Regions from separate parts of the Homo sapiens genome. Here all the other regions are linked to region 3. Evidence: fine-mapped expression QTL. A gene starts in region 3. Each other region holds a variant in brackets. All regions are shown on one strand. Distances are between the middles of the regions.

Region 1 (7,553 bases), 160 kb after region 3:
CCATGGGGGAGGAACCATGAGCTTGTAGCCAGCTGCGCTGTCCTTCTGGCTTTCCCAGTGAAACCATCTCTTCTGCCCTCCAGTGTCTCTGATGCCACAGTACAGCTCTGAGGCACAGGGAGGTGCCACGACCCTGAGGTTTATTTAAAAAATCTCCAAATAGTGCACTCCAGCTCTCTCTACTTTGCTTAATGTGGAAAAGTGTTATTTCCCTAGAAGGCTCTGTCTCTCCCCTGCCTCACACCTCCTCTCCTGCCGCGTGAAGGTTCCTGAAATGAAGCTGAGCTGTTCAAGGTTGCTGTTGGCGGCCTTTGGTCTGCATTCCTCTCTAACTGGTTTTTATATTTACTGAGATTTCATGAGAATGATTTTTAAAGTCCTGTTATTACATCTGAGGGGTAAAAAAACTGGGACAGTAGAGTTGACGGAGTTCCCACACTGGGCACAGCTACCCCTTTTGCGGAGCTGGTGTTGGGGAGCAAAGGAAGAAGGCCCCATCCCACTCTTGGGAAACCAGCGGCGGATAAACTCTTTGTCACTGCCAGGACCTCTGCCTGTCCCTAAGTGCCCGCATTGTTACACGGTCTGTAGCCACCTCATTGATGGCAGAGGGCAGTCACAAAATCCTTCTAGTTAGTGGGTTTCCAGAGCCTCACCAACTGTATTGTGACTTCCCATTCTGAGATGGCTTGAGGGGTGACAGCTGCAGGCCTGGAGAGTAATTGTCATGCTGTTTTTTGTTTTTTTTTTTTGAGACAGAGTCTCACTCTGTTGCCCAGGCTACTCAACTTCTTTGTTAAATGGAGATAATTCTCCCTGTCAGGGTGTGGATTGACTTAGGTAATATCCCTCAAGTGCTTAGCCTGTGACGGCTAGAGCTAAGCACCCCCCAAACAGTCACCATTATTATCTAAATATTCTCTCAAGGTCCCCCCTTGGCCAATAAAAGTCTGATAGAATTTGGGGAGGCCCAACAGGGTTGCCTGCTTTGGGGTGAAGTGAGAAGCTCATCCTTACATGCAAGGAGTTAGATTTGATGGTGGGTCTTCTGAAGGGAGGTACCTCCTGAGTCCATGGCACATGGCCTGGGCACTGGGTAGTGGTCCCCTTGGACAGAGCCCTGATGGGCAGTCAGAGCTGGGGAGCAGGTGTGCAGGTTTTGAGGGTGCAGGGGATAGAGAGTTATGACGAGGATGCTGGGGTCCACAGAGCCCCCGAGGATTTGAAGAACTAGAATTTGAGACACTCTAACAGTGTGGCTTTAGGGGAGGGGACAGGAGGCAGAGTTAAAGACAGAGGGGTGGTGACAGAGAAGAGCCCCCTTCCATCCTGACCTCACCTATATTTGAGGGCTGTGGCCAGGACTGAGCTGCACACCAAAACCTCGTGGAAACAGCTTTGTCGAGAATTTTCACAGTGAGAGGAAGAAACGAGAGGGGCAGGGTTGTCTTCAGGAAAGGAAAACATTCAACCATATTAAAGATCCGAGTGTGCAAGAAAGCAAAGTGGGGATGGAGGAGGAAAAATGCAGGGCGAGCTGGGAAGATGGGATTTCTCGGGGGCGGGCACTAAAGACAGTGAACTCCAAACAGGAGAACAACATGAAGTACTGGGAGAAGAACCAGTCCATCGCCATCGAGCTCTCTGACCTGGTTGTCTACTGCAAACCAACCAGCAAAACCAAGGACAACTTAGGTAACATCTTTCCCAAGAACATGCCCTATAACTCCAATGAAAACTTAACTTCCTTTAGAGTCTGATATTTTCAGAGGGGGCAGAGAGTGCATTCTCTCATTCTTAACTACTCCCAGTAGATGGCCCCACCTTGGGTTTGTCCTCCGAGTGAGGGAGCTGGTGGCAGAAGCTTTTTTGGTGTATTAGTCCATTTTCATGCTGCTGATAAAGACATACCCAAGACTGAGTAATTTATAAGGAAAAAGAGGTTTAATGGACTCACAGTTCCACGTGGAGGAGGCCTCACAATTATGGCAGCAGAGGAGAGAGAATGAGAAGCAAGTGAAAGGGGAAACCCTTATAAAACCATCAGATCTCGCGAGACTTATTCAGTACCACAACAACGGTACAGGGGAAACCACCCCCATGATTCAATTATCTCCTATCGGGTCCCTCCCATAACACGTGGGAATTATGGGAGCTACAATTCAAGGTGAGATTTGGGTGGGGACACAGCCAAACCATATCACCCACTTAGTGGGTGGATTTAGTTCTTACTGCCATTACCACAAACTTGGTGGCTGAAAACAACATTTATTCTTGCACAGTCCTGGAGGCCAGAGTCTGAAATCAGTATCATGAGGTCAACATCAGGGTGCCAGCAGGGCTGTGCTCCCTCCGGAGGGGAAAGCCATTCCCTTCTTCCAGTTTCTGGGGGCTGCTGGCATTCCTTGGCCTTCTCCTCTTCTGCTTCCCTATTATAAGGACCCTTGTGATGCATTAGGTCCACCTGGATATTCCAGAATAAGCCTCCCATTTCAAGCTCCTTAATCACACCTGCAAAGTCTGTTCTGCCATATAAAGTGACATGCACAGGCTCCAGATATTAGGGCCTGGACATCTTTGGGGGCCATTTAAAAAAAAAAAGACCTTCTACCACATTCTCCAGGTAGCAAGCTTTTTGATGATGCTGTACGTATTTTTTTCTTTGGGTGTTTTGAGCTGCTTCCATATCTTTCATCTTAGAACAGAAGACCAGCCAGACAATACTAGACCCCTCAGTTAACTTACCGGGAGGCCAGTCCCTAGGAACTTCTACCTTCAGGGACTCAGCAGGCTCAGCATGTTGACTGCCGGGCTATCCCACCACAGCTGGATGGGAGAGAAGATGAGGCCTGTCCCCTTCCCTCTCCTCCTGTTCTCCCTTCCCTGCACAGGCACCCACATTGCAACCCTACCTGTGGGCTTTGGCAGGTGATTCTCAGTTTGTTCATCTTGTGTCTGTGGTCTCTCTGGATCTTCCCCTCCCAAGATCTTCTCCTACCCAAAACCATTCCCATTCTCCCTCTTCTATAACTGTACCACTTTTGTGTTTTCTTGTTCAAGGATGGTGATAGTTTAAAAAAAAAAGTAAATTACAGTAATTCTAGCCTAAAAGGTGGTGGGAAAACTAGGCCCCTTTTTAATACTTGGAACCCCCAGAGGGCAAGAGTCCACAGTGATACCAATTGGGACAATATCATCAGAACCCCTTGAATGTCAAAGAGGGAGATTCCTGGTTTCCTTTTATAATCTGAGCATCCAGCCATTGCAGCAAACATTAAGAAAATGCACAGATGAGACACAGAAGTACTGATGACCTTTTTCTCTGTGTGCAGAAAATCCTGACTTCCGAGAAATCCGCTCCTTTGTGGAGACGAAGGCTGACAGCATCATCAGACAGAAGCCCGTCGACCTCCTGAAGTACAATCAAAAGGGCCTGACCCGCGTCTACCCAAAGGGACAAAGAGTTGACTCTTCAAACTACGACCCCTTCCGCCTCTGGCTGTGCGGTTCTCAGATGGTGGCACTCAATTTCCAGACGGCAGGTAAAGGCCGACTGAAGGTAGTCCCGTCCCTGCAAGGTGGCGGTTGCAGTCACTCCAGGCCGAGTCACCTTGGGTCAGCGATACCATGTGGTGTCCAAGAATGAGTGATTTGTCCGAGGGACTGCACGGTTCAGCAGAGTAATGGTTAGTATGAGGTCCAGCAGCTGAATGGAGGGATGAGAGGACCGAAGGCTGCTTGGCTTACGCAGGCTTCGTGATTGTAAGTAAGTGACAGAGGCTGAGTTAGTCTGGCTTAGAAAAAGAAAATGCATTAGTTCATGTAATTAAAGCATCTTTGGAGTTCTCTTCTCCAGGCCTGTTGCTGTGTGAGGGCTTTCTGCTCAGACTTTCTTCCAGAGACATTTACATGCTGGC[A/G]TAACTAACATACACAAACTTCTGGACACAAAGTGATCGCATAAATCACGGGGCTTTGTGCTTTTGTTGTTGTTATTTAAGACCTCTTTCGAGGGATCTATTCATCAGTAGCCTCCTTTACATTCTTTTTATAGCCACATCGGATTCCACAGAATGGAACAATCATTTATTTAATAAGTCCCCGTGGAGGCACATGTAGGTATTCCCCATTATTTGCTGTCATAGACAGCACTGCCTTCTGTACCCTGACGTGAGCGCCATTCCACAGATGTAGGAATATGTCTATGGGACAGAATTCTCAGAAAGGCAGGGTGGGTCAAACAGCGCTTGCATTTTGATCAACTTTGCCCTGAGGAAAACCACTGAAGACGTGCCTGAGCTAAGCCACACTGCCAAACTGCCCTCCATAGAGATCGTGGGCGGGGATGCAAATAGGTGGAGGTTGGAGTACGCTCTTTTGGTATGACTTCGCTGAGTTTTGTTGAACTTTTTGCCGTTTGCACAACTGAGAGGTGAAAACTGATACATCGTCGTCCATTAGAGCTTCTTCTTGTAAGGGACATTAACCAGTTTTTCCCTCATTTAGGGAGCAGTGGCATTTTCTTTTCTGGGAACTATTTGTGCTTCTTACCTGATGTATCTACTGCAGTAGGTATTTATAGCATAGATGTATCAGAACTAAGAGGTTAAAAATTTATATTCACATATTTGTCATTTGAATTAAAATTGCCTATGCAATTTATTGCTACATAGACACTTTTAGCAAGTTTGAATCTTTTCTTTTATGATTCGGGATTTGGTGACATACTTGGAAAGGTGTTCCCCAGTCTGGGAGTTTGCTGTCTAGAAACCCTATATTTTCTTTGAGTGAGATACCTATTTGAACAGCTGCCTCACATTAATTTGGGGAAAAGGTGAAATTCATTCCCCACCTAGAAACTCCTGGCCTAGGGGGCCAGCGTGCTCATGCCTGACTTACAGCAGGCGTTCACTTTCCTTCCCAGATAAGTACATGCAGATGAATCACGCATTGTTTTCTCTCAATGGGCGCACGGGCTACGTTCTGCAGCCTGAGAGCATGAGGACAGAGAAATATGACCCGATGCCACCCGAGTCCCAGAGGAAGATCCTGATGACGCTGACAGTCAAGGTAAAGCCAGCCCTCCCTTCCTGCCAGGGGAGCCAGCCGCCCTCCCTGGGGGCTGGGCCGATGCTGTCTTGAGAGCAGGGAACCCATGTCTAGGGAGGCTGGTTGTCTTGTTTAAACGATCCCCATTCAGGCAGTGTTTGAGGATCTTTCTTTCTTACAGTACACTCCGGGGTCGTTCTGGGAGAAGAGGGAAGAGAGGGGAAACCTCCTCAAACCCACTTCCCCTTGTCCTCTGTGGGGGTGAGGTATGACCCTATCTTTCTGGGGTCCTGGTGAGGTCAGCCTCTGGCCGGAAAGAGAAAGAAAACATGGGAAACAGCCATTTGGTCTTAATGGAGAAGTTTTTTCCCTTACTTTGTCCAATTCCAGGGCTTTTTAAAATTCATCTGACTTTCAGAGAAAGTGTTGTTGCTTTGTAAGAATTTTTGAAAAGTAGAGAAATGAATTGCATTTCTCCTAAGGTTAAGGGCGGGCGGGTGGTAGGGGGAAGAAGCATACGTAAACACAGGCCTTTAAATAAACAGCAGTTATAAAAAGAATGCCACACTGTTCCTCAGCCTTTCCTAGGGGTGTGGAAATCCAGTGATTAAGCTCTGCCTTGATCAGAGGCACCTGCTTGGGCATGGATGTGTGCATTCATGAGCTCAGGTGAGTTTTACCTGTTGAGTCAGGTGGCATATGGGGCCGAGACCCAGGCTGATGCTGAGGAACTGTGGGATCTACCACAGTCCACCTTCATCCACTGCAGAAGGTTGCTCCGGCTTTTCCAGTGAATCTAGGAAAATTAGGGCTGGCATTGAACTCATCCAGTGTCACTCTAGAACCCAGCTGCAATCCACGCTAGGCTGCCTGTTCAGGACCCCAGGGGGGTTCCAATGCTTCCCTTTGGTGTCCCAGGTTCTCGGTGCTCGCCATCTCCCCAAACTTGGACGAAGTATTGCCTGTCCCTTTGTAGAAGTGGAGATCTGTGGAGCCGAGTATGACAACAACAAGTTCAAGACGACGGTTGTGAGTAAGTCAGTCACCTTGGCCCCTCTGCTTTTAAACGTCCGGCCAGTGAATCCTTTGTGGGAGTGCTCTTCGTGGGGGATTTTGCAATGCTCTTTAGTTGTCCCAGGGTTTTCTTTCCTCCCTCTTGCCCACATGGTTCAGCTTGAGGAGGGGATACATACAAAGGGCCACTTTCTGAAATCCTTAGACTTTCCCCAGTGCTGTTTGCCTGCCTGTAACTCAAGTCCGGAATCGTAGGTGAGGCCCTGACACTAGGTTGGTCCTCTCTGTGCAACAGCCCAATCTGATTAATCTCCTGAGTCAAAGGCCAAGAGGCAGAGACACAGAGAGAGGGGGTGAACCTACGTGGCTGACCTGACCCAGAGGATCAGCCTAACCTGGGAGATCTTAGCCCCTAGAGGGCAGGAGGGACAAGAGGAATGCTTGCTCTTCCAGGAAAAGCCAGGAGGGAACCGTGATTGGTGGGCCTTCTAAAGCACAGGATCCTTGCCCCTGGTAAAAAGTAGCCCAATGAACAACTCAGATGCTGACCAAATAAACTGGCATTTATGGAGAGTGGCAGGATTGCTGCTTGCCTGCTCTGTGAGGCTGGGCTCTCCCCTGCCAGCTGTAGAACCCCCTGCTGGTGGATGTGGCTCCCAGGCTCTCCTCCCCTTTTGTCTTTTCCAAAATCCACCTTCCTGCTCTGCAAACAAACACCTCCCCCGTTCCCTTGTCCCTGATCCTGGGGCGGGGAGATGGGAGGTGGTCTCCTTCCTCTGCTCACCAAGGGACCAGCCTGCAACAGCAGCTTCCAGGATTGCTCAAGGTGGGGTGGGGGAGTGAAGATAATTATTCAGATTTTCTTAGATCTTGGCATAGATGCATATTTATTTACATGGTTGCTAAGGGGATTCACAGCTGAAGGATGCGGAGATTGTCTTACCAGAAGGGGGCAGCTCCAATGTGGCCTCTCATGAGCTTTGATCTCCTTCCAGATGATAATGGCCTCAGCCCTATCTGGGCTCCAACACAGGAGAAGGTGACATTTGAAATTTATGACCCAAACCTGGCATTTCTGCGCTTTGTGGTTTATGAAGAAGATATGTTCAGCGATCCCAACTTTCTTGCTCATGCCACTTACCCCATTAAAGCAGTCAAATCAGGTAAGAGGCATTTTAATTAAGATGTTCGATTTGGGCTGGCGTTGTACTTTGGTTTGGCTGCTGGCTTCAAAAAGAATGAAAAATGATTTTTCCTGGTTTGGATGGAATCACTGTAAAACCGATTGGGTGGCTTGGAGAGCAGGTGTACAGCCTGTCGTGTAGCACACAGGTGGGAGGAAGTGGGTGACAGGGGAGGCTATGCCCCTCAAAGTGGGATGTTTACAAGCAAAACTGGATTGTTAGTGGATCCTCAACCTGGCACTGCAGTTTGATTTCATTTTGAAATATTACATGCGGTTTGCTTCTCCCTAGCTAGGGCTAAGTCTGGTT
Region 2 (7,553 bases), 150 kb after region 3:
GGTTTCTGGGGAAGTGGTTTTGTGGGGTGACTTCTGTCTGAGAGCAATAAGAACTTGCTCATAATAGTGAGCACTGGTTTAAGCACCTCATAGACTGGCATTTCTGCCTCCCACAAGATAACTGGACCTGGCTTAGGAATCTGAATAGCAGCATGCATGGAGTGCTTCTATGTGTCAAGCACTGTTTTAAGCACGTTTGAAATAACTCACTTCATTTGAAATAACTGAGTCTACATGATGACTGTAAAAGGTTGGTTCTGTTGTTACCTGCATTTTACCGATGAGGAAACTGAAGCCTTCAGAAGTGCAGTCACTTGTCCAGGGCCACATAGCAGGCTGAGATTTGAACCGCCAGGCCTTTTGACTCCAGAGCTTACACTCTTAACTCCATTCATCTGCTAAGTCCTTCCCTGTCCTCTTGCAAGATGCCTTAATCCAGGGATTATCAAACTTTTTCTTAAAATCAGGAGAACCTCATTGCAAACCAATTCATACCTAGATTCCACAGAATCAAAGATGCAGCCGAGTTACCCATTGAGCTGGAGTGGGGGCGTAGAATTGCCCTGTTTGGCCTCCTTGCTGACATTGCTGTTCCTACTGCAGCCTCTGATGCTTCCCCTTGGAGGCTCCCAGACCCAGTTGGGCAACCACAGTGTTGTCCGTCTGCTTCTCCCAGTTCAGAGGCTCGGCTTTGCCGAAGTCCCTCCACTCGAAGTGGCACAGAGTTGAGGTCTCTTCCAGGCACACTGGCGTTCCCTCACTGGGCTCCTGTCCCTGCCTTGGTCAACATCCTGGTGCGCACTGGGTGGGTGACTAACAACATTTTTGGAGTTGTGGCTGGAGCCCAGGTGACTACTCCAAATCACGGTTTTCCATTCTGTGTGAGATGGCCTCATGCCTTTCTATGCCTCTGACAGGCAGTTCTCTGAATTTCGAAGGCTCTTGTCTTAAGAGACTGTCAGAAGTCCCTTTGGCAAGGGACTGTGGGCAAACCGCCCAGCGGCTGTGGTCAATTCCTCTCTCTGATGGCAGTAGTGCTACCTAGGGGGCCGCCTGGGTGAAACCGGCTTTTTTGCATACTTCCAAACTGGTTCCCTGTAGCTAGGGGACCAAACAATTATTGTCTGAACCAAGATGCTCCTGAGAGTGAAGAGAATGTAAAGTGCTCAGTCCTGGACAGATGGTATATATGATCGCCGTAAATACAGCCAGCCCTTGCCAGAAGTGGGTCTGGAGAAATGGTGCGGGGGGGCGTGAAAAGGGCTTACAACCCGCAGTCCTGTGTCTCTGCTAGGTGAATTGGTAGCATCAGTCCTCACTCTGCTTATTCAGACCAAAAAATTGTTAAGTTCTTCCCACCACCACGGAGCACAGACTTGATTAAGATCCAGAAAGGTCAGCCGGGTGCAGTGACTTGCGCCTGTAATCCCAGCACTTTGGGAGGCCGAGGCGGGTGGCTCACTTGAGGTCAGGAGTTTGAGACCAGCCTGGCCAACCTGGTAAAACCCTGTCTCTACTAAAAATACAAAAATTAGCCAGGCATGGTGGCCCATGCCATAATCCCAGCTACTGGCGGGGCTGAGGCAGGAGAATTGCTTGAACCTGGGAGGCGAAGGTTGCAGTGAGCTGAGATCGTGCCATGCACTCCAGCCTGGGGGACAGAGTGAGACTCTGTCTCAAAAAAAAAAAAAAAAAAATCCAGAAGGATATCATATAGAGGGGAAGACAGATGTATAATTATACGTTAAGTATAAGATGTGGCTGCTTGGATGACTGTGGGGACAGGATGCCAGGGGACCACAGAGGAAGAGTGCTCAGCCTAGGGGGCAGTCAGGGAAGACTCCGTGGGAGAGGAAATGCCCAAGCTGAGTCTTAAATTAGTGGGGGGAAGTTGGGTACCAAGGGCATGGGCCAAGGCATGGAAGCTAGGCAGCATGGCAGGGGCATGATAGGGACGACGGGCCAGCTGGAGTCAACATCATGGAGAGTTAGGAGGTGATGTCTGGGAGTCCTGGGGTCAGACTGTGCTGGGCCGTGGCTGCCATGTTGAAGAGTCTGGGCTGGATTCTGGAGGCCCTGGGGAGCCATCATGTGGTGTGGTCAGAGGTGCATTTTGGAGAGTCCCTGGCTGCGGAAAATAGCTCAAGAGATGGGCAGGTTGAAGGAGGGCGTTTGCATGTCTGGGCACGGCCTTGCCGGGAGGAATCTTAGAGGTGCTCACCGTCTGGTGGGGTCCAGGAACATTCATAGATGGATTATGTCCCGTGTTGTTAGTGTTGTTATAAAGATAGGGAACAATGTTTTAGCTGAATAATAATAAGAGCTAACACTATTGAGTATTTACTGTGTACTAGGTAGGCGCTGTCCCAAGCACTCAGCTTATGTTAATTTAGAGTCCTAATAAAACCCTCTGAGGGAAGCACTCACGTTTATGCATTTTTCAGATGGAGAGTTGGAGGCACAGAAAGCCTCCACCGTCAGTGGTAGAGCTGGAGTTTAATTCCAGCCTGTCTGCCTCCAGAACCACCTTCTCTCTAAATTCACAACCTCCCCGAAATAGGGGTGAACTTTTGTCTTGTATGGTCTCTGACTTCCACGTAAAGCATGGAAACTTTTGACTTGTGATCTTTGATTAAACATTAAGATCATGTGATGGGGGTAAAATCAGCCCCCAGTAACTCATTAGTAATTAAAAAATAAAAAGACAGCAGTTGCCTTTGAGATGCTCCATTGTCACAGATAGTGACACTGGTCACTTGGCCACTTGCTGTCTGTCCCCATCAGAATTGAGCCAGCAGCCGGGTGCAGATGAGCAGTAGTGGGTAATTCATGCCACCTGGTGACAGCGCCCCCATGTCCTCTCTTCTTATCCAGGTGGAAAGGAGACTATGGAACCAGGATCCAGCAGTACTTCCCATCCAACTACGTCGAGGACATCTCAACTGCAGACTTCGAGGAGCTAGAAAAGCAGGTGAGTCCCCCTCTTCGATCCTCTTACAGGAAGAAGGGATCTGCAGGTCCAGTTTTTCAGGGAGCTGTGCCATCTCAGTGGGTGAATTTTTCCATGTGCTGCTTGTGGTCTCTGTGGAGCTCTGGATCAGGGAAGACACAGTGATGATAGGGAAATTGAGATTGAGTTGTTGTGGGTGAGTTGCTGTGACAAGCCGGCCGTGTTTTAATCAGGTTGTGTTGGGCTTGGAAGGATTTCATTATGCAGGAGAATTCCCGCTGGAGTGAAAGTGACCAAATGGGGAATTTGTCCTTTGCTTAAGCAACTTGCAGATGAAACACATTTATATTGGACAGCCAGACATTGAGAACGTGCTTGGGGCGAGTAAGCAAGTGGGCCTAACCAGAGGTGAGATGAGGCCTTCCTGGTGACTTTGCAAACCTGGTGGTTGTTCCCTCGCCGCCTCTTGTTTAGAGAGCAGCCACTTTCAGCGTGCTAGCACTCCACCAAGGATGATATCTTTGTAATGAGGATTTTAAGATCCCGTTAGACCCCCAGGTGTTTATTTTCTAAGGGATGTAGGGCAATCTGGGAAGGCTTCCTGGAGGAAGGAGTATTTGACCCTTAAAAGTCAAGTTAGAGTTCAACAGCAAGAGACTGGCAGAAGAGAGGTGCAAGTGGGAGGTACAGTCTAAGCAAAGGTGTGGCAGTGGGAATGTGGTTGTGTTCCGTGTGCTTGGGCTGAGGCAGAGACTGGAAGCCCTTGCTTCCTCTGTACTGAGTTGCCCTTACCTGTACATCAGCATTTACCTGGTGCAGGGGGTGGGGTTTGGGGTGGTGCAGGCAAGGAGTGGATGCCTGGTTCTGCCACCTCTCCTAAGCCCAGGATATTCTTCATCTCAGCCAGACCCTGGGATGGTTCAAGGGTGCAATGGGAGGCAGAGCTGGAAAGGGTGATGGGGGCTCTGAAAGTCTTAAAAGCCAGGTCATAGAGCATGGGTGTTGCTTCCACAGGACATGGGGAGCCACAGAAGGTTCTTGAGCCGGGCTTTAGTAGGCAAAATAGTCTCATTTTCTAATAAGGTCAGATAAATAGTCTAGGATGTGTTTGGAAACCAGATCTGAGGAAGCATTATGAAACCTGTTCTAGAATTCACAAGGCACGTTTTTACGGATTGGAAAATGAAACTCCGAACCTCCTGGCACCCTCTCCCCGCCAGGTCCCTATCAGCTCCATGCTTCATTATTTAGCTCTCTCCCCATGGACGTATCTGGTAATGAAAATGCATTTTAAACAGTTCCACAGGCAGTATCTCTGCTAAACGGTGTGCTTTGGAAACGGGTTTTCTTTTTATTATTCCCGTTACAACTAACGTGAGTTATGTCTTGTTTCTTCACAGATTATTGAAGACAATCCCTTAGGGTCTCTTTGCAGAGGAATATTGGACCTCAATACCTATAACGTCGGTACGTGCACACATCATCTTAGCCTGGATTTCCACCCCTATCCCCCATGGGCTGACCTCAGCCCCGCCCTACACAGGGAGGTGGCTGACACAGGGTCCTGTCTTGAATGCCAGCTCCTTCCCTGGCTGAAGCTGAGTATTTAGGTCAGGCTGGTCAGTGAGTATGATGCTATGTCTGCTATTAATCTCTACTAAAACTGTAAGTGCTAAAACAAGGTCTCGTACATAAGTGCTAGATGGTGGTTAGCGGATATTATTACCAGCGTCACTCTTATTATTTCAGGATCCATCTGTGTTTCCCATGCGTTGCGAAGGAAAGCTGAGCTGTCAGCCTGGCTGAAATGC[A/C]GCGTGGAGTTGGGAGTCTTGGGTTCTAAACCCAGCTCTGCCTCTCTGTCGCTGTGAGACTACAGGCCTGTCACTTCTCCTCTTTGAACCTCTGCTTCCTGGTTGCTCGGCTGGGGCCCAGGAAACCCAGCCCGCCCACGTTGACCATGCTGCAACGGGATGTGAAGGCGTGGCCCCAAGGCTAGGCTTGTCCAGTGGTGGCCAGGGTCTGATGTGTGCTGGGTTTCCTGGGTCTTGAGCCTGCCTGCTTTGAAGTGGGTGTGGTGCAGCTCCCATGTGAAGGGACTCTGTAGCGGGCCTCCTTGTTCTGGGCAGCCCATGACCCTCCCTGGGCAGGCACGGGCATGCTCCCCTAGGACTCAGGTGACAGCAGCCCCAGGAACTTCCTGCTTCTATTGCCAATGCTCTGCTTTACACATTCATTCATTTATTATTATTTCTTTTCGCGATAGAGTCTCGCTGTGTCACCCAGGCTGGAGTGCAGTGGCGTGATCTTGGCTCACTGCAACCTCTGCCTCCTGGATTCAAGTGATTCTCCTGCCTCAGCCTCCTGAGTAGCCGGGACTACAGGCATGGGCCACCGTGCCTGGCTAATTTTTGTATTTTTAGTAGAGCTAGGGTTTCGCCATGTGGGCCAGGCTGGTCTCAAACTGCTGACCTCAAGTGATCTGCCTGCCTTAGCCTCCCAAAGTGCTGGGATTACAGGCATGTGCCACCATGCCCAGCCTGCTTTCCACATTTATAACCTGCTTCTTTACCTTTACAATGATCCAGCAGGATAGGTAGGAGAGGGATTCTTTGCTCCGATTACCAGATGGGAAAATCAAGGTCCTAAGTGACCGACCACCACATGTGCTGAGGTCCTTTGGGCAGGGGGGTGCAGGATCCCTGCATCCACTTCTGGTGCTCTTTGTATCATCTTCCCCCATCCCTGTATCTGCAGAGCAGAGGCACATGGCTCATTGGTTCTGAGTAGAAATCTTGGAGTCAGGTTTGAACTGAGCCTCAGTTTTACTACTACTAGCTGTATGACTTTCCACATGTGACTTTCTCTTAATGAGCCTCAGTTTTGCCTCCTGCAAAATGGGCCTAGCAAAAGCAGGGTGCCTTTAGTCTCAGCTACTCAGGAGGCTGAGGTGGGTGGATCCCTTGAGCCCCAAGAGTTTGAGACCAGCCTGGATAATGTAGCAAGAGCTCAAAATTAAAAAAATAAAATAAAATAAAGATGCAATACATGTAATCTGCTTAGAATATTGCCTGGTATATAAGAGCTCAGAAATCTTAGCTACTAATATTATTTGGCAGATAAGTTTCCCTGTCATAATCTTTTCTTCTCTGTAAGATCCTTTCTCTGTGTCTGGAGAACCCACGCCACATTTCTCTCCTAGTTTCTGGTGACTCTTTGGTGTTTTTGGCTCATGGCTGCATTCTTCAGTCTCCACATTTGCCTGCACATGGCTTTCTCCCTTGTGTCTGCATCTGTTTTTAAAGCCATTTAGCTGGGTGTGGTGGCTCATTCCTGTAATCCCAGCACTTTGGGAGGCCAAGGTGAGTGGATCGCTTGAGCTCAGGAGTTCGAGACCAGCCCTGGGCAACATGGCGAAACCCCTCTCTACAAAAAATACAAAAATTAGCCAGGCTTTGTGGTGTGCACCTGTGGTCTCAGCTACTAGGGAGGCTGAGGTGGGAGGATCGCATGAACTTGGAAGGTGGAGGCTGCAGGGAGCCAAGATCGCACCACTGCACTTCAGCCTGGGTGACAGAGTGCCACCCTGTCTCAAAAAAAAAAAAAAAAGCCATTTAAATTATTTATTCTTTATATGTAAAAGATTATATGTAACAACATAGAAAATTATGCACAATATGCTAAGTGAAACAGTTCACAAAATTTTATGTATTGTATGTAAACATTTTGTAAAAATGCCAAGTTGCTTAGCTATATTTTAAATATTTTTAAAATGAACATGTATTGTTTTAGTAATTTGTAAAAAATATTTATGATGAGTGTAAAAAGCATTTTCTAATTGGTCAACCAAAAAGATATTCAGTGTTTCTTTTGATCAAGACGAACACATGTCTATAACTAAAGTGGACAAGAGGGTATTTTTTTCAGGTTCTCTCATGCATTTTAATGTTTGTTTTTTTTTCCTGCATCTTAAGTGTCCCTCTCCTTTCTCTTATAAGGATACTCATACTTGTTGGATGTTGGAATTGCCCTAAATCCAGGATAATCTCATATTGAGATCCTTAACCTAAGTACATCTGCAACGACCCTATAAGGTCCCATTCACAGGTACTGGTGACCTGACACATCTTTTCGGAGGACCCTACTGAATCTACTGCATCCCTTGAGTAGTCATCTGTGATGTGTACTTACCCCGATGGAAAGTAGACGTCCCCATCAGTGCTAACCGTGGTCATAGCAGTGGTGGTTGGTCCATGAGAGAAACAGCTCAGGCAGGGTGCAGTCTGGTCTTTGTGGCCCTCTAATAGGCTGATTGGGACATTTCTTATTCTCTTACCCCAAGTGAAAGCCCCTCAGGGAAAAAACCAGAAGTCCTTTGTCTTCATCCTGGAGCCCAAGCAGCAGGGCGATCCTCCGGTGGAGTTTGCCACAGACAGGGTGGAGGAGCTCTTTGAGTGGTTTCAGAGCATCCGAGAGATCACCTGGAAGATTGACACCAAGGTAGGCACCTGCTCACCCGGGTGCAGGTGGGCCTGGCATTCTGAGGGCTTTGGTGCTCAGTTGGGACTGTGGGTGGGTCCAGGCAGCAGGATGAGCAGGCCCAGGT
Region 3 (7,553 bases):
GTTTTCACCATGTTAAGCAGGATGGTCTTGATCTTCCAACCTCGTGATCCGCCCGCCTCAGCCTCCCAGGGTGCTGGGATTACAGGCGTGAGCCACCGCGCCCGGCTCAGAGTGGTTTCTTTCCCTACCTATTTTATTCCATGGAAAAGAAAGAATACACAGAATGGTTCCTTCCCCACCTATTATCCTTGGGAAAAGAAGTGTCATTTTACATTAGAGTCCTCCCAGAACAGCGCCTGCCGCCTTGATGATGACGACGATTGTTAATTCTGAGATGGAGTCTTGATCTATCACCTATGCTGGAGTGCAGTGGCACCATCTTGGCTCACTGCAACCTCTGCCTTCTGGGTTCAAACGATTCTGCTACCTCAGACTCGTGAGTAGCTGACACTACAGGTGTGTGCCACCATGCCTGGGTAATTTTTGTATTTTTAGTAGAGAGGGTGTTTTACCATGTTGGCCAGGATAGTCGTGAACTCCTGATCTCAGGTAAGCCGCCTGCCTTGGCCTCCCAAAGTGCTGGGATTACAGGTATGAGCCACTGCACCTGGCAGATTATTTTTATTTTGAACAACCAAGTTAGAGTTTGAGAAAGAGATGAAGGGCCTCCAGTACTCTCTTTCAATCCACTGATTCCTTCAGTCGTTCACCTGGGGGGTGGGGTTGGGCTAGGGGTTGGTTAGCAAAAAATGAGCCAAAGAAGAAAATGAATTAAAAACATGAAAGAAAAAAAAGCAAACTGCCATTTACGATGACCATTATCTCACACACAGTGGACATTTTAACTCAAAAATACTATAGGCTCACAGGCATAGATTAAACAGAGAAACCTGTTCTTCATGTTCTTATTTTTTTGCTTGCTTCCCACAGATGAGAGAAAAATCCAGCCAGAATTGGCATCTGTCAAGATAGGCTTTTAGGAGCCACGGCTCCCTAGAGTGGTCTCCACACATTCTGATTATATGCAATCTCATTTTGCCATCAAGAGACTTAACCCACTCCCCTATCCATGTAGACTTTGTAATAATAAATTATACATATATATGACTGAACTAATATATTATGTACTTTATATAACACATACTAAAACAAAAGTGTGAAAAAGATTGGTTGAAATAAATACAAGCTGAAGTTCTAAAAAAAAAAAAAAAAAAAAAGTGAGGCAAAGGAATTGCCCCTAGATGTAGTCATTTTTCCTGGGGAATTGGCCCAATGACTTCAAGTGGTTGATGTCATAATGAGTCCTTCCAAGATCTCTTTAAAAAATTGATGTGTTAAGTGATCTGTGGTGATGAGCACAGCTATACACGCCAGTTGGGAGTGCTGAAAGAAATGAATCCACAGATCTTGTGAAGTCACAAACGAGTCCTATGGCTTGGGATACAACATTGACAGTGAGAGTGATATTCCTCAATTAAAAAACGCTATAACAGGCCGGGTGCAGTGGCTCATGCCTGTAATCCCAGCACTTTGGGAGGCCAAGGTGGGTGGATCACTTGAGGTCAGGAGTTTGAGACCAATCTGGCCAACATAGTGAAACCGCGTCTCTAGTAAAAATACAAAAAATTAGCCAAGCATGATGGCATACACCTATAATCCCAGCTACTCAGGAGGCTGAGGCAGGAGAATCGCTTAAACCTGGGAGGTGGAGGTTGCAGTGAGCCGAGATCGTGCCACTGCACTCCAGCCTGGGCAAGAGAGCAAGACTTTGTCTCAAAAAAAAAAAAAAACAAAAAAAAAACAAAAAAAAAAACAAAAAAAACCAAAAACACACACACACAAAAAAAACGCTATAACAGACCAGTGGCACATGCCTGTGATCCCAGTGCTTTGGGAGGTAGAGGCAGGAGGATTGCTTGAGGTCAGGAGTTCAAGAACAGCCTGGGACACATAGTGAGACCTCATGTCGAAAAAAGAGAAAATTAGCCAAGTGTGGTGTGCCTCTATAGTCCCAGCTCTTCAGGAGGCAGAAGCAGGAGGATCGCTTGAGTCCCGGAGTTCGAGGATGTGGTGAGCTATGATGGCACCACTGCACTCCAGCCTGGGTGACAGAGTGAGACCCTGCCTCTTAGAAAACAGAAGCTATAACTCAAGCAACTTGGAAGTGAAATTCAAGTGCCTGACAGCTGTCTAGGTGCCCCTGAAACTGCCTCTAGTCACAACAAAGATACCTCCATCAAAGAGCATAGGAAGGGTTTGAATCAGATAGCTTCATGCAACACACGAACGGAAAAATAAATTTCTTAAAGAACATATTAGCTTCTTCCCATGAGATCAGGAAAACGGGACATCAATTGTCTGGGGTTCTTTGCTCCTGACTCCCTTTGGGGCTGGCACTATGTTGATCACGTTTTACAGATGGGGAAACTGAGGCTGTCGGTTTTTAAGTGGTCTGCCTAAGGTAGCAGTAAGGGTTGGTCTGACTCCAGCGCAGCCTCAACGAGGGCTTCAAATTAGGGCCATGAATTGGCAATTCCTGGCGGGTAATTGTGAAGAGTATATTTATTTTTAATTTTTATTTATTTATTTTTGAGACGGAGTGTCTCTCGGCCACACCCATCCTAGCTCATTGCTGTCTCGAACTCTCGAGCTCAGACGATCCTCCCGTCTAGGCTTCCCAAAGAGCTGGGATGACAGGCGTGAGCCCGGGCGCCCGGCCGGGAGTGTGTTAAGTATACGGCAAACACCTGGACTGCGGCCGGCTCTCCAGGAATGCCATGATATTGGGGAATTCCCTTTGCACCTGGCCAAGTGGCCTCGGGCAGGTAGCCTCCCCTCGGGTTGCCTCAGTTTCTTCTTTGGCACGCAGAGGCGGGGCTCCAGGCCTGGGCCGCTCCATGGCGGGGAGGGCGCGGGGACGCTGCACTCGGGGTGCGCTCCGAGAGGCGGACCCGGCTGGGCGCGCCTGGGGCGGGGCGAGGCGGGGCGAGGCTGGGCGGTGCGGGGGGCGGCCCCCGAGGATCACGTGGCGCGGCGCCGCGGCCGAAGCAGAAGTAGCGAGCGCCGGCGGCGGAGGGCGTGAGCGGCGCTGAGTGACCCGAGTCGGGACGCGGGCTGCGCGCGCGGGACCCCGGAGCCCAAACCCGGGGCAGGCGGGCAGCTGTGCCCGGGCGGCACGGCCAGGTGAGCTGCCCGGCCGGGAGCGAGGCAGGCAGGGCGCCCAGGGACCTGCGCCCCGCGGGGACCGGCTCCCAGGGCGCTGCGTCCGAGGGGGTCTGCGTCCTGGCTCAGCCGGAGCGGGCAGGGACGGGGCGCACCCTCGGGGACCCCGGCCCGCCGTGCCCGGGGTCCGTTTGGTGACGGCAGGGATCCTGGCCCAGCCGCTGGCCACTTCCTCACCCCGGGCCGGCGCCACCTCTCCGGTCCGTGCGGTGGGGCGGCCCCAGCTTTGAATGGGGACCGGGAGGAAGGTCAGGGGTCGTGTGGGGGCTGGCGTTCAAAACTCCTCTTTTCGAGCGGCTCTGCGTGGGGTGGCGCCGTCTCTCTTGACGGCCCTTGTGCCCAGAGCTCGCGGACGCTCGGAGCCACACTTCCCTGTCTCACTTCGGTGGTTGCGGGTGGCGGGTGGGAGCGATACCGCGGGAGGCGCAGTCCTTCCCGGAGACTTTTGGAGAGCTTGCAGGACACTCGCGATGCCCGCTCCGCAGCTGTCTGCGTAATTATGCGTGTGTCTGTGCGTGTTGTGTTTTGTTGTGTTTTGGAATCCCAAAGAGGGCATTACCCGCACAGCGCAAGAGTTCAGGTTAAAGACGTGCCCCGTTTGGACGGGGAGCTCCTGGATTCCAGCAGGACGGTGGGGCGGGGCTCTCTTGGTACCCTAATCTTGAACTAGGGTGAGAAACTATGGGGGGCGGGGTGGTAAAGGGGTGACATGGCGCGAGGGAAACAGGTGGCCTTGCCCGTCGGAACTTAATTTGAATTTCAGTTCCATCAGTGGGACCCTGGGCAAGTTGAAGAACCTTTTTGAGTCTGTTTCCCCCTCTGGATACTGGAGCCACCCAATTTTCCAGGGCTGTGTCGAGAATTGGGGCTTATTGCTGTTCCACGAGGTTCGCTGAGAATCGGGGCGCATCCATGGAGAGTCCTTGGGCAGTTCCTGACTCTCTGGTTCAAGGGCATTCTCTGGGGCATGGGCCCTCGTCCTTGACTACAGTTCTGCGGGGAAGTTTTACAGAATTTTGAAGTCTATGCCAGCCTCAAGCAGTTTCTCTTGCAAAGGTGTGTGTGCAGTCACGTGTATACCAGCTCAGGGACAATCGTCATTGTGAGCCTCACTGATGTTTAAGTCACCTAATGATGCAGCTGCCTTCCCCCACCAGCGACTGGAGTATGGGCAGTTCCTCTGGAAGTGGAAAAGCACAGACCCCATGAATAGCCCTTTTGCACTCATTGGGTAGAGTCAATGAAAAGCTGCTGGTGAGAAAACTTTTGAAAACATTTCTTGGTCAGGCACGGTGGCTCACACCTGTAATCCCAGCACTTTGGGAGGCCGAGCTGGGCTGATCACTTGAGGTCAAGCGTTCCAGACCAGCCTCACCAACATGGTGAAACCCCATCTCTACTAAAACTACAAAAATTACCTGGGCGTGGTGGTGGCCGCCTGTAATCCCAGCTACCCAGGAGGCTGAGGCAGGAGAATCACTTGAACCCAGGAGGTGGAGGTTGCAGTGAACCCAGATCATGCCACTGCACTCCAGCCTGGGTGACAAGAGAGACTCCATCTCAAGACAAACAAACAAACAAACAAACACACACAAACACTTCTTAATTTAGAAAACAGCAAGAACACAAAGAGAAAAATTTGCCCGTTACATCATCAGTTAATATAAATAAAGTCAAGTTGTATCCTCTACCCTCTCCCAGCCTCCGATAAATAGTAACCACTCTCCTGGATTTACCAGAAGATCACCTTTATAAAAAGGGAATTGTATTATACTCATACAGTTGCAACTATTGTCTGAAGCTATTTTTTTATTGACCTCACAAATCTTTCCAGATCAAATTGCTTATCTATCATCCTCATTCTTTCTGATGGCTACTGAGCGTTCTTCAGTGCATGTGCACCATTATTTATCCAGGAGGCCCCCCACATTGATGAGCAGTTGTTTTCTGTTTTTTTTTCTTTTTTTGTATTTCTATTGCAACTATTGCTTCCGTGATTTTCTGTCGTACATATTGCATCTTTGTGCATGTCTTTCTTTACATGTACAATTGCAGGATCGAAGCATATGCGTGTTTTGCTTTTTAGTAGCTGCTCACAGGTTGCCCTAAAGGAGCAGGGGTGGAATTTACACTCTCACTTGCAGTGGCTGACACCATTCCTTTGAAAATAGTGTATTCCCTCTAATGCTGCAGGGTGGGTGTAAGGTGCAGCAGTAATGTCCCTTGAACTGTTGGAGGGGCCCTTACCACTCAAGTATTTGCCTGTGCTCCATTTTAACACAATTGTCTTGTGGGATTTTTGGATGAAATCCTGTACTGGCTTACCATGCACAGAGCACTGAAGAGACAAAAACTTCCTTGATTTCTGGTTTTGGGTCCTCGCATCTCATTTCATGTCCTTTCCCCCCCCCCCCCCGCCCGCCCCCGAGACGGAGTCTTGCTCTGTCGCCCAGGCTGGAGTGCAGTGGCGCGATCTCGGCTCACTGCAAGCTCCGCCTCCCGGGTTCACGCCTTTCTCCTGCCTCAGCCTCACGAGTAGCTGGGATTACAGGCATGTGCCACCACACCCGGCTAATTGTTTTGTATTTTTTTTTAGTAGAGACGGGGTTTCATCGTGTTAGCCAGGATGGTCTTGATCTCCTGACCTCATGATCCGCCCACCTCGGCCTCCCAAAGTGCTGGAATTACAGTCATAAGCCACCGTGCCTGGCCCATTTTATGCCTTTCTAAATAAGCTTATGAGATACAAGAACATGAATGAGCTTATGAGATACAAGAAAAACCTTTAGAAGGACATGAAATGTAAAAATGGCAAAAATCAGTTATTCAAACTCAGCCATATTTGTATTTACAAAATAAGTCATTTTATAGAATTACCCATTAAGAATGGGAAACAGGAACAAAAAAGGGATTTCAAGGCTTTTTTTTTTCTTTTTTTGAAAAAACCAAAAAAAGCAGAAGCAAAATGGAAGTTGCTGTGGTGGCTGGTGCTCTCTCCTGGGCTCAAGGTCTTGGAGACCTCCCTGCCATAGTTGATAAAGCGTGGAACGCTGGAGACCTGAGCTGGGTGCTGGCAGGATTTGAATGGTGGACTCCAGGGATCTTTTGGCCGTGAAGATCTGTTTCCAATTGCATCTCATAAGCTCATTCATGTTCTTGTATCTCACAAGCTTATTTAGAAGGGCATTTCGTGAGATACAAGAACCCCAAACCAGAAATCAAGGAAGTTTTTCTCTTCAGTGCTCTGTGCATGTTAAGCCAGTACAGGATTTCATCCAAAATCCCACAAAACGATTCTGTTAAAATGGGGCACAGGCAAATACTTGAGTGGTAAGGGCCCCTCCAACAGTTGAATGGACATTACTGCTGCACCTTACACCCACCCTGCAGCATCAGAGGGGATACAGTGTTTTCAAAGGAACGGTGTCAGCCACTGCAGGTGAGAGTGTAAATTCCACCCCTGCTCCTTTAGGGCAACCTGTGAGCAGCTATTACAAAGCAATTGGTGAGACGCAGCATGGAAGTCTGGTGTTTATGGCTGAGTTGATCCACTGGGCTTCGAAGCTGGAAGTAACTGGGACCCTGGGGAAGGTTAAGTCCAAGGCCCTCCCAGAGTGAGGGCTGGAAAGAACTGAGGAGCCTGGTCCCTTGTCCTGGTTTCTGTCTAATTGAAGGTGTTATAATGGGGCTTGTGTTTCCTACTTATGTTCCAGTGGACTATGGCCTAGAGACCTGGGAGTGGGGAACTCCAGGATGCATGGCTGGGAACAGTCAACATAGTGAAGAGCTCTGTGGTTGGCAGCTGGGTCAAATCCAGTTTCAGCTACTTTTTTAAAATTTTATTATTATATTATTATTATGCTTTAAGTTTTAGGGTACATGTGCACAACGTGCAGGTTTGTTACATATATATACACGTGCCATGTTGGTGTGCTGCACCCATTAACTCGTTTTGCTACTTTCTATCTGTGTGACCTCGGATAAGTCCCTTAACCTCTTTTGAGAGTGGCAAGTACTGGCAAATCAGTTAATATCTGGCCAGATGCTGCCACAGGATTCTGGACTAGGGGCTTGGGACTCAGGTGAGGGTTTTGATCTTTGTGCTGCTGCTGGTCTACATGACTTTGATCAAGTAATGTGACCTCTTGGGATTTCAGTTTTCCGCTGCCGTATTTCCCATTGAGATAAATGAGACGAACCAGACACAACAGGTGCTTGGCACCTGGGGAAGGGCCCAATAAATGGCTGCTTAACAAGGATGAAATGGACCATGGGGGCACCTTGTTCATCCCTTTGTCCTGGCTAATGATCAGGAGGTCATTTTGGGTTTCTCCTGATAAGGTAAGATGCACATTAACTCTCAGCAGGGTTTTTTTTTAGCATACTCTGTT
Region 4 (7,553 bases), 62 kb after region 3:
GGTTTAAAACCTAGATGATGGGTTGATAGGTGCAGCAAGCCACCATGGCACAGGTATGCCTATGTAACAAACCTGCACGTTCCGCACATGTATCCCAGAACTTAAAGTAAAATTAAATATATATATATATATATATATATATATATGTAAATAACATAGATGTGGTAAAATGCACACATGGTGCATGTAAGGCTCAAGGCTTTAAGCATGGGTCCACCTCTGTGGCCATTCCTCGGGTCCCGGTGACCCAGTCCTCTCTTTAGGTGACACCACTCTGACCCCATCAGTGAGTCTTGCATGGCTAATTGGCTTTGTGCCTCTCTTAAAGGCTTCTCATTTCCCTTTATGACTCACAGAACCAAGCCGAGGGTTTTGCTTCCAGCAGACAACTATTTCTAGGTAGAATTTAATCATATTGTCACGTTTCCACTGATTTTATTATTTTGCAGTTCCTATTGTATATGGTGAGTGTTACTGGTTTTCTTTTTGCCAAAAACATAAAATCACTCTTAACATACATCAGTTCAGGTGAAAACGGTGAGTTGATTTAAAGAAAACTATCACATAAATAGTATCAGCAGTAGGCAGATACAACAAACCTTATAAGGTTGATAAACAAATGTTTGCAGTTTGAGAAATAATGTCATATGGCTCCAAACCACCCCCCAAAACTGGTCAATCCATGTGTGAGGAAAAAAAAAAATCTCTATATAGTCTTTGTATAATGAGAGTTTTCTGTGTAATTTTGATACACAGTACTGGTTTAAAGAAAAGCAGAATTAGCCTATTAAAATATTAATAGGCTGTATATAAAGTAATGAGCCCTTCCTTTATTGCCTTAATAATTTTTGTTATATTTGCATACCATGAGTACTATTTTATATCTAATACTTATTTTAATATTGATTCACTATTTTTAAACTTAATTTTATATAGAAAAGAAACTTGATTTCATAGTTTAGAGGTGCCAGGTATGTATTTTTTCAATATATTTTAAAATATACTACAGTTAAGACATAACAAAGGGTGGGCACCATTTAAATTTAATTACCAGCAGGAGGGTGAAAAACACCAAGTTTAAATGGCACCAAAATGATGAACATTTAGGCTGGGCATGGTGGCTCATGCCTGTAATCCCAACACTTGGGGAAACCAAAATGGGAGGATCACTTGAGGCCAGGGATTTGAGACCAGCCTAGGCAACATAGTGAGACCTTGTCTCTACTAAAAAGAGAAAACTTAGGTAGGTGTGATGGTGCATGCCTGTAGTCCCAGTCACCTGGCTTTGGGAGGCTGAGGCAGGAGGGTCCCTTGAGCCTACGAGTTCAAGGATGCAGTGAGCTGTGATTGTGCCACTGCACTCCAGCCTGGGTGACAGGGCATGACCTTGTCTCCAAAAAAACTTAAAGAATTATTTGATGGCCCATGCTGGGGGTGTTAGTGGTGAGCACATAAAGCTCCTCATTTTCTCATTGTCTCCTGAGTTTGGAAATGATTGAGAAATGAAACATCGGCAATCAACGAAGGGCGATGAGATGGCTGCCTGGAGAGCATGCTTAGAATTGAGCCCTGACAGCTGGCCCCTGAGCTGCCCACCCTGTCATGGCCTGGGTGGATGCCCATAGGTGTCTCAGAGCAGCAGTCCCAGACTTTTTTGGCACCAGGGGCCGGTTTTGTGGAAGATAACTTTTCCATGGGCCAGATTGGCCTGGGGGGATAGTGTGAGGATGATTCAAGGGCATTACATTGATTGTGTACTTCATTTATATTATGATTACATTGTAATATATAATGAAATAATTATACAACTCACCGTAATATAGAATCAGTGGGAGACCTGAGCTTGTTTTCCTGCAACTAGACAGTTCTATCTGGGAGTGATGGGAGACAGTGACAGATCATCAGGCATTAGATTCTCATAAAGAGTGTACAACCTGGGTCCCTCACATGTGCAGTTCTCAATAAGGTTTGTGCTGCCATGAGAATCTAACGCCGCTGATGATCTGACAGGAGGTGGAGCTCAGGCAGTAATGTTCGCTAGACCCCTGCTCACCTCCTGCTGTGCGGCTCGATTCCTAACGGGCCACAGACAGGTGCCAGTTCATGGCCTGGGGATTGGGGACCCCTGTCTTGGAGGCAGCTCCCTTCCGAGTGGCAAGGAACAGGGCAGGGCACGTGGTCCCTTGGGGGTGGATCCAGCTAGAACAAGATGAAGAGGCTGAGTATCCTCAGTTCCTTTTTCCAGGGAGTGGTCCCTTCCTCCCTTGGGGATGGGGAGTCCCAGAGGGGAGAGAAGCACCAGTTTCCCCAGTATCACTTAAAACTCTTATCTATTGAATAGTTCTGCATGAATATGAAGCATTAGAATCACAGACCTAATTATTTGAGCATAATGATCTGGGAAGAATCTCTTCACATGGAAGCAGGACACTGATTTTCGCCTCTGCTGTCAGCGCAGTGGCAACAACTCTGTTGTTTATTATCTTTTTAACAAAGAAGATAAGGGCAGGCCCACCCCCTATCTGCAGGCCAAAAAGTAAACTTTATTTATTTATTTATTTATTTATTTATTTATTTATTTATTTATTTATTGAGATAGAGTCTCACTGAGTCGCCTAGGCTGGAGTGCAGTGGCATGATCTTGGCTCACTTCAACCTCCGTCTCCTGGGCTCAAGCCGTTCTTCTCAGCCTCCTGAGTAGCTGGGATTACAGGCACCCAGGCGCTTACTACCATGCCCAGCTAATTTTTGTATTTTTAGTAGAGACAGCATTTCACTATGTTGGCCAGGCTGGTTTCAAACTCCTGACCTCAAGTGATCTGCCCACTTCGGCCTCCCAAGGTGCTGGGATTACAGGCATGAACCACTGCGCCCGGCTGTAAACTTTACTTTTTGCAAAGTTTTTTTTCAGATATATCTCTATAGGGTGTATGTTCTTTTTCCATTTCATAGATGAGAAAATAGACAGTAAGCCAGAATAGAGGCTTCTTCATACAGCCAGGAGAGAAAGAGCTGGATTTAACTCATGCCTGCTAGATCCTTCTAGAGCTGGGCTCTTTCTGCTCTACCGTGTGTGCCTCGGAAGCCCCTTTTGTCATTACATGTTCTTCTGCTGTGTATCTCACCTATTCCCCCAGCTGCCATGTCAGACGCTGCTACATGTGTGAAGTAACCTAACACCTTTGGTTTTTCTTAAAGCAGGGTCCTTGGCTGAGATCAGTAAGCAACGCTGGGGCTTTTTACTTAAAGTGAAACCACCAGCAGCTGGGAAGCTGGTGTTGCAAGGTGGTACAGAAAACCATTCAGCCTAGTAGCTAAACTCACCTTGGTGGAGCCCTCCTGGGGCCACGTGATTTTTATTTCATGTTATTTCATTTGGTTTGCATGACAACTCAATGATAAGCATCACTGCTTGTACAGCGGAGGAAACAGCAAAGAGAAGGGATGCAACGTGCCTGGTTCCTGTGCACCCCTGGGGAGCATAAGCCAGGATTTGAACCAAGGTCTTTGTACTCCAGAACTCCCTACAAAGGGAGGCTTTCTCCTCTTCTTCCCAGGTGAGCTCCAGTCTGCAGAACTCAGCCAGGATGCATGTGCTCAGAGAAGCCTTTCTTCCCCTTGCTGGGGAGGAGCCCCAGTGTGGACTCTGTTGCACTCCTGATGTGGATGGAGATGTGGATATTCACATATCATATGCCGGCCTGGACAGGGCCTGTCCTCCCTCCCAGACTCGGAGCCGTCTGAGGGCAGGACTGTGTCTGTCTCTGCAGTGTGGCATCCCTAGCGCTCAGCGTGGGGTTCTGTGACTGCCTGGTTGACTGAATAACTGAAAGTCGGAAAAGAGGTTGGGGTATGTGTGGGAAGGTGCCCAAGCCTTCTGTCTGTCTGTTTGCTCGCTTGAATATGTCTTGAGCTTCCAGAGAGAAATTTTTGTTAAGCTCATTGTCAGGTGTGGTGCCCCTTGAGGTCATGTATGGGAATTGGGGAAAAAGCCATGTTCCTGGTGTCAGG[G/T]GTGGGAGGACGTTCCGTGGGTGCAGGGAGCCTGAGAGAGACAGAGAATCAGTAGCGGGAGGAGGAAGGAAATGGGAGCTTGAAGAACAGGGTCATGGCCCGGCCAGCAAAGGGGTCGGTGGTGTAAAGCGGGGAGTGAGAGGAAGCTATGAGACGTACGGAGGGGCCAAAAGTCCGCAAGGCTGTGCCAGAAGGTGATGGGTAGGCAGGGAGGGCTGAGGGAGGGTGGCTGGAGTGGGGTGCCGGCCTTTGAGGCTGACTCTAGGAGACTCAGTGTGTGGGGGTTTGTTTGCAGGGGGTGGGAGTGGAGGGATGGGTGGTGGGGGTGGGGTGGACCTGGGAAGACCCGAGGTGATGCTGGGAAGGGGGTGGGGTTGTGCAAAGATGAAGCCTCATTTCTGTGGCTGGGTTATCTCACTTTCTTCAAGCAGGAAACTCGGCCACTGAGCCCCACCATGCAAGAGTGCATGGCCTGAGGTCTGCTGACCACAGCCTACTTTGAGAATAAAGTGTTGTTTCAGTCACTATGAGCCCTTGGCAAAAATTTGAACCCATGCAGACAAAGCCCTCCTTGACCATCATTTGCCCATCTCCTTCTCACTAGTAGTGCCTGTTGTCAGCAAGTTGGTGGAAATCTTTTGGTACCCTTTCTCACACCTTTACACTCATACGTGCACACTTACAAATAGGCACATTCCTTCTTAGCTGAATCCAGTACATTCCTGAAAACACACTGGAGAGGAACATTTTTGGATTGCAATATATTACATCATATTACACAGAGACAAGCGCTGATGCATTACCAACTGATTGAAACACCCCAGCCAATTTCCTTAGTATCACTTAACAACCTTAAGTACCTAAAATCAGCCTACCAATATTTTTCGCGTGAATACAAAGCATCTACAGCAACAAATGCCCAATTTTTGGGTGCTTTGATGAACCCATTGCTAAGCATGTTTGCAAAAAGTACATAGGATACTATACAGTAATGTTTCTGAATTAGGATATTCTTCTATCCTCCAACTACCTTGTACTGTAATGGAAAAAACAATGAAATGATCTGCTTAAAATACTAAAGATTCATTTAAATTGGACCCTGGTTGGTAGTTTGCTTGTCAGAAGCAAATGCTGGGATGAAAGAAGAACTCAATAGAATGGGCAGGATGCCGGGTTTGATGTGCCGTTGGTTGTGTGTCTAACTGCTTCTCTTCCATTGCAGACAGACACGCCTTTCCTTTCCTTTTCTGTTTCTGTTTCCTTTTCCTTTTTCCTTTTCGTTTTTCTTTTGTTTTCTTTTTCTTTCTTTCTTTTTTTTTTTGAGAAGGCGTCTTGCTCTGTGGCCCAGGCTGGAGTGCAGTGGTGTGACGTCGGCTCACTACAAGCTCTGCCTCCCGGGTTTATGCCATTCTCCTGCCTCAGCCTCCCGAGTAGCTGGGACTACAGGTGCCCGCCACCACACCCGGCTGATTTTTTTTTTTTTTTTTTTTTTTGGTATTTTTAGTAGAGACGAGGTTTCACGTGTTAGCCAGGATGGTCTCTATCTCCTGACCTCGTGATCCACCCGCCTCGGCCTCCCAAAGTGCTGGGATTACAGGCGTGAGCCACCGCGCCCGGGCACCTTTTCATTTTTCTTTTCCTTTCTTTTCTTTCTTCTTTCGGATGGAGTTTCACTCTTGTTGCCCAGGCCGGAGTGCAGTGGTGTGATCTTGGCTCACTGCAACCTCTGCACCCCCACAATGGGTTCAAGTGATTCTCCTGCCTCAGACTTCCTAGTAACTGCGATTACAGGTGCATGCCCCCATGCCCGGCTAATTTTTGTATTTTTGGTAGAGACAGGGTTTTGCCATGGTGGCCAGGCTGGTCTCAAACTCCCAACTTCAAGTGATCTGCTTGCCTAGGCCTCCCAAATCGCTGGGATTACCGGCGTGAGCCACTGTGCCTGGCCCACACCTTCACTGTTTTCATTGGCACCTAGGTGCTCGTGAACCTCGTACAGCAGGTCTATGATCTGGATTGTGCATTTTGCATAAAAAAAGAGTTAATAAGTTATAGTAGACATTCAGATAGTGAGAATTTGCATAGTGATGGACACTTGTATATAATATGTACATGTACACATGGCCATGTATGTGTGTACACACATGGATGCATACATCTAGTCTCCTATTTACACAGGTCATCGAGGAGTTTTTGTCATGTCGGTACATAAGGATCTGCCTCCTTAATGTTCACAGCAAATAAATTGAGACACCATGTTCTTTCTTTTTTTCTGAGACAGGGTCTTGCTCTCTTGCCAGGCTGGTGTGCAGAGTTGTGATTACAGCTCATTGCAGCCTCAAACTCCTGAGCTCAAGCAATTCTCCTCCCTCAACTTCTTGAGTAGCTGAGACTACCAGTGTGCACCAGCACACTTGGCTAACTGCGTTTATTTTTTGTATTTTTTTTTAGAGATGGGGTATTGCTTTGTTGCCCAGGTTGGTCTTGAACTCTCTGGTTTCAAATGATCCTCCTACTTCAACCTCCCAAAGTGCTGGAATTATAGGCATGAGCCATTGTTCCCTGTCCCGTGTTATTTCTTATGCCTTATATGTGTCCAGCTTGATTCAGTTGCTAACAAGTACAGAGAAGCTTCTACATCTTTGTTTTTTTTCCCCTACATTTTTGTTTTGCCAGGTACTATTTTAATTGACAAACACACATGTACAGTCGCACACTCATTTAATCCCCACAAGAGCACTGTGTGGTAAGTATCACTATCACTCCTGTTGTTCACATGAAGAAGCAGAGGCACAGAGAATTGAAGTTACTGTCCAAAGCTATCTGCTATAAGCTGGGGAGCTGGGACTCCAGGTTCCAGAGTCTGTCCACCTCATCAGTAGCGACACTGCTCCTCATGACTTGGATAGCTCCTGGGAACATGAATTTGCAGCCCCTGCACTAGAATCTTGTTCCCAGCCTCGGGTCAGAAAGGTGGCTTGAATGCACTGCGTTGAGCGCAGTGGGCCTGACCGCTCTCTGTGCAGCTCTGCACCCCTGTGGGTAGTGGGATCATCATTCACCAAGATGCCCCTGCCTGATGTAAGATCAAGGGGTGGAGATGTCAACAAAAATGCCCACCGACCCCCTCAGACTTTGCTGAATACCAGATAGAAAACCCTGGAGAGAGCTGCATATTCTTATGTGGCTTCTTAGAGTCACTTGCTTGACTATGAGTCAAAGTTCAAATGCTGGCTCTTGCACTTGTGGCTGGTGACCCTGGCCAAGGTACTTCACTTCTCCACATCTCAGTTTCCTCATTTGTAAAATAGGGGCAGTCATGGTACCTGCCTCATAGTGTTCTTGTGAGGAACGATGAGTTAATACAGAGGATGCTGTTGTGCCCCACTCAGCTCCCATTACCAGGCTTGTGCTCCATTTCCCAGCTGCTAGGAGTGTTGGGTGTCGTGGCTCACAGGTGCCCCTTCTTCAGGGCACTGCTCTCACTAGAAGAAATCTGCATCACCTAGGAGGTTGTAGTGGCTGTAAGCCAAGCCAATGAC

The links. PIP is the estimated chance that this variant, and not a neighbour inherited with it, causes the effect.
Region 1: its variant is fine-mapped to the expression of PLCG2 in whole blood (TOPMed, PIP above 0.99).
Region 2: its variant is fine-mapped to the expression of PLCG2 in whole blood (TOPMed, PIP above 0.99).
Region 4: its variant is fine-mapped to the expression of PLCG2 in whole blood (TOPMed, PIP above 0.99). The same link has a PIP of 0.9 or more in putamen.

What each region holds. Positions count from the first base shown.
Region 1 is chr16:81,932,837-81,940,389 of GRCh38, forward strand. It overlaps PLCG2 (phospholipase C gamma 2), which reads left to right. Exons shown (of 33, transcript NM_002661.5): 26 at 1,593-1,695; 27 at 3,333-3,542; 28 at 4,922-5,067; 29 at 5,965-6,079; 30 at 7,056-7,223. Among named protein-coding and RNA genes, the nearest start is that of SDR42E1, 75 kb to the right of the region's middle. The variant A/G (reference allele first, on the strand shown) is at 3,918.
Region 2 is chr16:81,924,208-81,931,760 of GRCh38, forward strand. PLCG2 (phospholipase C gamma 2) reads left to right here. Exons shown (of 33, transcript NM_002661.5): 23 at 2,875-2,971; 24 at 4,351-4,417; 25 at 7,290-7,447. Among named protein-coding and RNA genes, the nearest start is that of SDR42E1, 83 kb to the right of the region's middle. The variant A/C (reference allele first, on the strand shown) is at 4,762.
Region 3 is chr16:81,776,302-81,783,854 of GRCh38, forward strand. PLCG2 (phospholipase C gamma 2) reads left to right here and starts at 2,990. Exons shown (of 33, transcript NM_002661.5): 1 at 2,990-3,123. It overlaps LOC105369213 (a long non-coding RNA gene), which reads left to right. Exons shown (of 4, transcript NR_189584.1): 4 at 871-1,052. RefSeq lists silencers at 2,483-2,777, 2,806-3,075, 3,106-3,205, 3,216-3,295.
Region 4 is chr16:81,838,663-81,846,215 of GRCh38, forward strand. All of the region lies in intron 2 of PLCG2 (phospholipase C gamma 2), which reads left to right. Among named protein-coding and RNA genes, the nearest start is that of PLCG2, 63 kb to the left of the region's middle. RefSeq lists an enhancer at 4,070-4,129. The variant G/T (reference allele first, on the strand shown) is at 4,012.